Linked DNA regions of Homo sapiens: region 2 is reported to be linked to region 1. Evidence: microRNA targets listed by miRTarBase, many of them from high-throughput screens and not tested one by one. Region 1 holds a microRNA gene; the other region holds the end of a gene's coding sequence.
The links. The annotated mature microRNA hsa-miR-4306 reads UGGAGAGAAAGGCAGUA and lies in region 1 at 2,404-2,420, shown strand. An mRNA with a match to its seed (bases 2 to 7 or 8) in the 3' UTR can be bound and repressed. Matches are read on the target gene's strand: a 7mer-m8 pairs with bases 2 to 8, a 7mer-A1 pairs with bases 2 to 7 and ends in A, and an 8mer does both.

Region 1 (3,402 bases):
TGTTCAATTAGAAACTGAAGGCCTGGATCTGATAACTTCATGGGCAGTGCCCCTGCTCTTTTGTCTTACGACCAATAGGATTTTGACTGCTCAGGAAATTTGTATGCATGTACCCAGATATAGACCTAGGCACCTAAATGCACACGTGGATATATACGAATATATGGTGGACAGTGCAGATCCAAGCTACTCCTGCTAACACATTTCTGGAAAACATTCCCTTTATGGGAGGACTTAACAAAAAAATTAGTAGCTAGTTTTACTTTGGTTTACATATATTGTTTTTCTAATATAGAATTCTCATTAGTTGGTTTTATGAATCATATCACCAAATGAAAATTTGAAAAGTATGTAACAGTTTTCTATTGAGCGTTCTCTGAATATTCTTGCCTTCAGTCCTGCTGGGAGCCTTTTCTCAGATCACCAGTGCAAGCCTACAGTCATACATTGTTTGTAGTTGATACAACCTCAATGATATAAGTTTTTTGATGATTTTAAAATATGAGTAATTAATCATTTATAACCTATAGGTTAAAATGAATTATAAGTGGATGAAGGTGGGAACCCAAATGAATCAAAGCTATTTAAGTTTGGTATTGACATTGTGCATCTTCCCATTATTTATTATACCAAAAAAATCACTTTATTTCTTAAAAATAGTACAACACGGCCAGGTGCAGTGGCTCACGCCTGTAATCCCAGCACTTTGGGAGGCCGAGGTGGGTGGATCACGAGGTCAGGAGATCAAGACCATCCTGGCTAACACAGTGAAACCCCGTCTCTACTAGAAGTACAGAAAATTAGCCGGGCACGGTGGCAGGCACCTGTAATCTCAGCACTTTTGGGAAGCCAAGGTGGGCGGATCATGAGGTCAGGAGATCAAGACCATCCTGGCTAGCACGGTGAAACCCCATCTCTACTAAAAATACAAAAAAAAAAAAAATTAGCCAGGCATGGCAGCGTGCACCTGTAGTCCCAGCTACTTGGGAGGCTGAGGCAGGAGAATGGCGTGAACCCGGGAGGTGGAGCTTGCAGTGAGCTGAGATCGCACCACTGCACTCCAGCCTGGGTGACAGAGCGAGACTCCATCTTTAAAAAAAAAATAGTCCAACACAAGAAGGAAAGAAGGTACAGAAATGGAAAGTTAAGAATGAATCAGTGGAGTAAAACATTTCTGAGATTGGTGCATTTTCCTTTTGGAAATGTCATTCAAACCATATGAAATTAAATTTGGAAATAATGTTCTGCAGTCTCTTGAATGGGATTTAAAATATGACAATGCAGAAAACACATATGGGGATGAAAACCCATAGGACATGTCTCAAGGAGGACAGACACCCTGGGGAAGAACACTTGTGAGGGTACCAGGCTCTCAGACACAAGGAAAGAGGAATCTGAGGGATTGCTGGGAAGGATTCTCATCTTATGACCCCAGCTGTGGGTAGATTTGGCTGGGGAGCCCATTCTCATTGCAGGGGGCGGTGGCCTCAGCCCTGTGCATGCTGACTCTTCAGTGCTGTGCTCTGGCTGAGGCGTGCCTCTAGTGAGGGTGACCCTGGGCACCGAGCATATTCAGTCACCATCAGCCAAAGCTGGTTGTAGGAGGGCTGGCGGTGGTCTTGGGAATGTTGCTTGAATCCATCTTGGGGTGAAAATCAGAGTATTGGCTCATTTCTATTTTTTATGATTATTGTTATTATTATTATTATTATTGAGACAGGATCTTGCCCTGTTGCCCAGGCTGGAGTGCAGTGGCACGATCACAGCTCACTGCAGGTCACAGCTCCCAGGCTCAAGCAATCCTCCCACCTCAGCTTCCCGAGTAGCTAAGACTTCAGGTGTGTGCCACCTGGCCTGGCTCATTTTTTAATTTATTTTTGTAGAGATGAGGTCTCCCCATGTTGTCCAGGCTGGTCTCAAACTCCTGGGTTCAGGTGATCCTTCTGCCTCATTCTTCCCAAGTGCTGGGGTTACAGGCATGAGCCACCATGCCCAGCCTCTCCTTCCTGCCTGCCTGCTTCCCTCCCTCCCTCCCTTCCTCCGTTGCTCTTTTATTTTCTTTCCTTTTTTTTCCTGTTGCTCAGGCTGGAGTGCAGTAGTGCAATCTTGGCTCACTGCAGCCTTAACCTCCCAGGCTCAAACCATCCTCCCACCTCAGCCTCCCAACTAGCTACAGCTACAGGCATACACCACCACGCCTGGCTAATTTTTTATTTTTTGTAGAGCCAAGGTCTTACTATGTTGCGCAGGCTGCTCTCATTTCTAATACACTGAGCTCAACTGCTTGCTGGGTGAGGCCTGCATGAGGACTTTACTCATGGGCTCATAGAAGCCCTTTTAAGCTGCTTAGTGTCCTTAGAGTCTCCAGAGGCATCCCTAACCCAGAATCTTTTGACTGTCCTCTGGAGAGAAAGGCAGTAGGTCTGTACCAAGACCAAGGGGCTTGAAGGCTTGGACGCTCTGCTTCCACCTGCCTCTGGAGTGGCCAGAAGTAATGCCTGTTCTCATGACCAGCCAGTTTGCCTCACTGCTCCGGTGCCAAAGGCCAAGTTTTGATTGGAATGATGTCTGTATATTCTGAATAACCAGGAATTTTGTTTTTCTGATTTACAGATCTTCAGGCTTTTCATCAGCATGATTTGCCATCTCTGTCTTTGTCATCTAGGGTCTGTAATTATCCTCAGGTTTTCTGCCAATACCTGCATTTTCAACCAGTTAGAAAAAGAAGAGCTAAAACAGGTAGAAGCCTGAAACCAAGGGGCATATGCATTTCTGAAACATTTTCAAGAAATTGTCTCAATTTTATATTTCTGTTTATAATTATAATTTCAATGTCCAGTGGAGGAAGTTGTGAGACTCAATGTCAGTAGCTACCACTTACTATTCTGTGCGCCTCGGTTCAGATTGTTTGGGGCAGTGGTGTTTTATGTTGTGGGTCCAAACCCATGAGTCATCTGGGAAGTTAATTTATTAGGTCACAATGAGCGTTTTAAAAAATGAACCATAGGCCCGGCGCAGTGGCTCACGCCTGTAATCCCAGCACTTTGGGAGGCTGAGGCAGGTGGAGCATGAGGTCAGGAGTTGCAGACCAGCCTGACCAACATGGTGAAACCCCGTCTCCACTAAAAATACAAAAATTAACTGGGAGTGGTGGCGGCGCCTGTAATCCCAACTTTTCGGGAGGCTGAGGCAGGAGAATCGCTTGAACCCAGGAGGCGGAGGTTGCAGTGAATCCAGACTGCGCCATTGCACTCCAGCCTGGGCGACAGAACAAGACTCTGTCTCAAAAAAAAAAAAAAAAAAAAAAGAACTGTAACATAATAGGAAATATTCAATTCTGAGCCCATCACACATTTTGTCTTATGAAACTTTTGGTTTTTTATATGTGGTGTATGTATGTAT
Region 2 (3,402 bases), not on the chromosome of region 1:
CAGGGGCACCTCAAGGGGACAAGGCCCTCTAGCATCCCCTTCTCGGAGGCTGTTACCCAAGGATGGAAACTCATGCTTCTCCCATCTCTGTAATCCATGCCTGCAGGCACAGACTTCAAGTTACTGCTGTTATGGTTGAGATTTCACCAACATTTGGCATTTTCATTTTCCAAAAATAAAATGCATTGACTGCTTTTCCAAACTACACTTGTGCCTCTCTGATACTCTTCTCTGAAGAATCATCTAAAATTACACTCTGGTTTAAAAAAAATAAATCACTGTTCTAAGCCACCCAGGACAGAGCTGTTTGTCCTCTGAAGGTGGCCAGGATGACAGGAGCCAGCGTGTCCAGCATGCCAGGCACCGGGCCCCATGCCTCCCGTCGACTCTCTCATTTCTCTCACAGCACCCGCACAAGCTATGCATCACCATCAGGTGCACTTTCCAGAGGAGGAAAGCACAGTGAGCCTGGGGGCAGCATCCCTATGCCAATGGGCCCCAGCACCGCTCCAACAGATGGTAAAGGGGTCCAAGCATGGAGGTGGGCCACAGCAGGCGCCAGGCACCACCCTCTACTGCTGCAGGGACTCTGCTCCTACTTCAGGGGAACAGTGCCTACCTCAGAGTTGCTGTGAGCAATAAATGAGATACTGCACGCAAAGCCCTCACCAGTGCCCAGCACCCAGCCACCCACCACCCACCTGCCCCAGCTCAGGGCATGGCTTGCACTTCCCATCTCATGTCCAATCCTCTTTCCTGCTGCTCTCAGCCTCCCTGAAGGCTGACCCTTTCTGGCTTTCTCAGAGGGATTAGTTAAAATCTTTCCGTTGTAAAGCCTGCATTGTTTGGGGTTTACCAAGTTCTAGTCCCAACCCCAACCCCCAGTGCTGGGCCCTCACAATTGGGTCACAAGACTGGGCCTCAAGTCAATCCGACAAGCATTTGCTGAGCCTCTCCTGCGTGCAAGGCACAGCTTTCCTCCTCTTGGCCCCCAGCTCATACCCAGACCAGGCTGCAGCCCCCACGCCCCTGCCACCATGGTGCCCCAAAGGCCCGCCCCTCAGCCTGGTCCTGCAGGAATTGCCCAGGCCTGCAAAACTCCAGCAGTGCCAGAGAGATCTGGTCTTCCAGCCTCAGGGAAAATGCCAACACAAAGACATGACAAAAACAAGAAGCTTGAGGCCTTTTTATTGACAATTCTCCATAGACACAGAGATCCTTTTAGTTCCTCTCCAGTGTAAAGAAAGCACGGGGTACTGAACTCTCCTCTCTTAAAAGGACACAGAGGCGATACGATACCAAAGCCTGTCTGGCTCCCCAGGGCTGTGGCACCTCCACTGGCCTGGGTAAGCCCCTGGCTGCACAGCCCCAGCTAAGCTGCTTGGCTCGGCAAGAAAGCGGGCCTAGGATGGGTCCCTTGCCTCCCCAGCCTGCCTCTCTGGACCCCTGCTCCTCGAGTGTAGAAACCTCTCAGCCCCCTCATGGGTCCTGGGTCCCAGGCAGCCCATGACTCCAGGGAAGAGTCCTAGGTAGAAGACCCCCACCCCCAATTCCTCCTCATCCCATTACTTGTGCCACATGTTCCCAGGAACCATGCAATAAATAAATAAATACTTGAGAAAGGCAGGGCAGCTCCAGGGAAGGGAAGGGATGCCTGAGCCAGCTCATGGCTAAGGGAGAGATACTGAGCCCGTAAGAGTCCAGTAGTGAACATGAAACTGTTGGAAAGAAATGGAGACCCCCAGGGGGCCTTATCCCATAACTGAGACTGTCCTCCAGGGAATAGCCCTGGAATCCAGGACCCAGCCCAGCGAGATCCTACACTACCCAGGCCCCCAGGGGTCAAGGGCTTCAGGACCTCTGCTCCACTCACCTGGCCTCCCACTCCATTGGACAAGAGGCAGGGAAAGGAAACTGGAGTGCTGGGCCAGTGGAGGACTGCCCTAGACTCTGGACAGAGGGTGCAGAAGTTGTGATCCAAGTGCCCTGCAGCTGCTCCAGCGGAGCTGGGGACACTGGGGCATTGTGTGGGCTGAGAGTCTGTGAATTGAGGTGTCTTCGAGGGGAGGCCGAGGTCTGTCCAGCTATTGGGGCTTCCCCAAGCTTTCCTCCACTTAACGCTGAAGGACTCAGCCAAACCCTCCTATACACATTCTCCTCTCAGGGAATCTGGGAACTTCAACCCTGTTTCTAGAAGCACCCATGGTCTTGTTAGGCCTGGCCACACCCTCTGATGGGGAAATGATGAGATCCTGGTGCCTGGAGGGACATTCAATCAGCAGAGATGGGGTGTGGCACTCCCAAGCCCTTCTGCAGGCTCTCTGAGGCTGAGGGCCTGGCCCAGTACCCTGCAGGAGAAAAACCTCTTTTCCCAACCTCAGGTCTGGAATTCCCAGGCACAGCCACACTGACCCTGATCTTCAGACCCCAGTCAGGCCTGGCCTAGTTCGCTGCTGCCCTCTGGTGGCTACTGCCTGCCCAGCCCTAAGTCCACTCGCTCAGTCCCAGGCAGAGCAGGACAAACATGCCAGGCCCTCCAGGGGCTCTTCTCCCTCAAGGGATTGAGAGCAGCCATTGCCAGCCACTCTCATGGATGGAGAACAGCTCCAGAATCCAGCTGGAGAGAGTGAGGAAGGAAGGGGAAGCCTACCTAGCATTCAGGCCACATTTGCCCAGCACACACCACAGTGGGCCAGGGGTGGGGAGAGTGGGGGGTCTACTGCTGGTCCCAAGGACGGGTGCCTGGTTGGACCCTGGCCTCTCTTCTCACTTGCTCAAGGTCTGGTTACACGAGGCACACACAAACACAGTCTCCCTCTGGGCTTCAGGGGCTGAAAAGGAGGAAGAACTTGGTGAGACATTTCCTTGCGCCCTTTGGTTCATGGCCCCAACTACTAGAAGCACCCTCCCAAATGCCCCACACAGACCCCCCACCCAGCCCACACCCTCCCTGCCCAGCTTGCTAGCCTGCCCGCAGAGATTCTTCTTTCCATGGGAACTGGGGATCCTGGGGGTGATGATGCCAACAGCAGGCCACTCCTGTGCTATGAATTAGACATTATTGTGGCACCAACAGAACACCTTCAAAAATTTTTAAATAAAATATTAAATACAAAAATTAGCCAGGCATGGTGATGCACGCCTGTAATCCCAGCTACTCAGGAGGCTGAAGCACAAGAATTGTTTGAACCCAAGAGGCGGAGGTTGCAGTGAGCCGAGATGGCGCCACTGCACTCCAGGCTGGGCGACAGAGCGAGACTCTGTCTCAAAAAAACAGAATAAGTAAAATATCACAGTGAAATTTCCCAAAATGTTTTAACAGTGGTTACCTCTGGGTGGTAAAATTACAGGGTTATTTTTCTCTTCCTTCGTCCTCTGTATAATAATTTCCAAATTTTCTAG

Region 2: the mRNA of ZFYVE27 is a reported target of hsa-miR-4306. Seed matches in the 3' UTR shown: 8mer at 2,619-2,626 and 7mer-m8 at 1,676-1,682.

The regions. Positions count from the first base shown.
Region 1 is chr13:99,640,720-99,644,121 of GRCh38, forward strand. MIR4306 (microRNA 4306) reads left to right here and starts at 2,340; the gene lies at 2,340-2,430. All of the region lies in intron 1 of CLYBL (citramalyl-CoA lyase), which reads left to right.
Region 2 is chr10:97,758,665-97,762,066 of GRCh38, reverse strand. It overlaps ZFYVE27 (zinc finger FYVE-type containing 27), which reads right to left. Exons shown (of 13, transcript NM_001385875.1): 13 at 1,172-2,831. The coding sequence ends at 2,767. Among named protein-coding and RNA genes, the nearest start is that of SFRP5, 12 kb to the left of the region's middle. RefSeq lists an enhancer at 1,528-2,027 and a silencer at 2,500-2,549.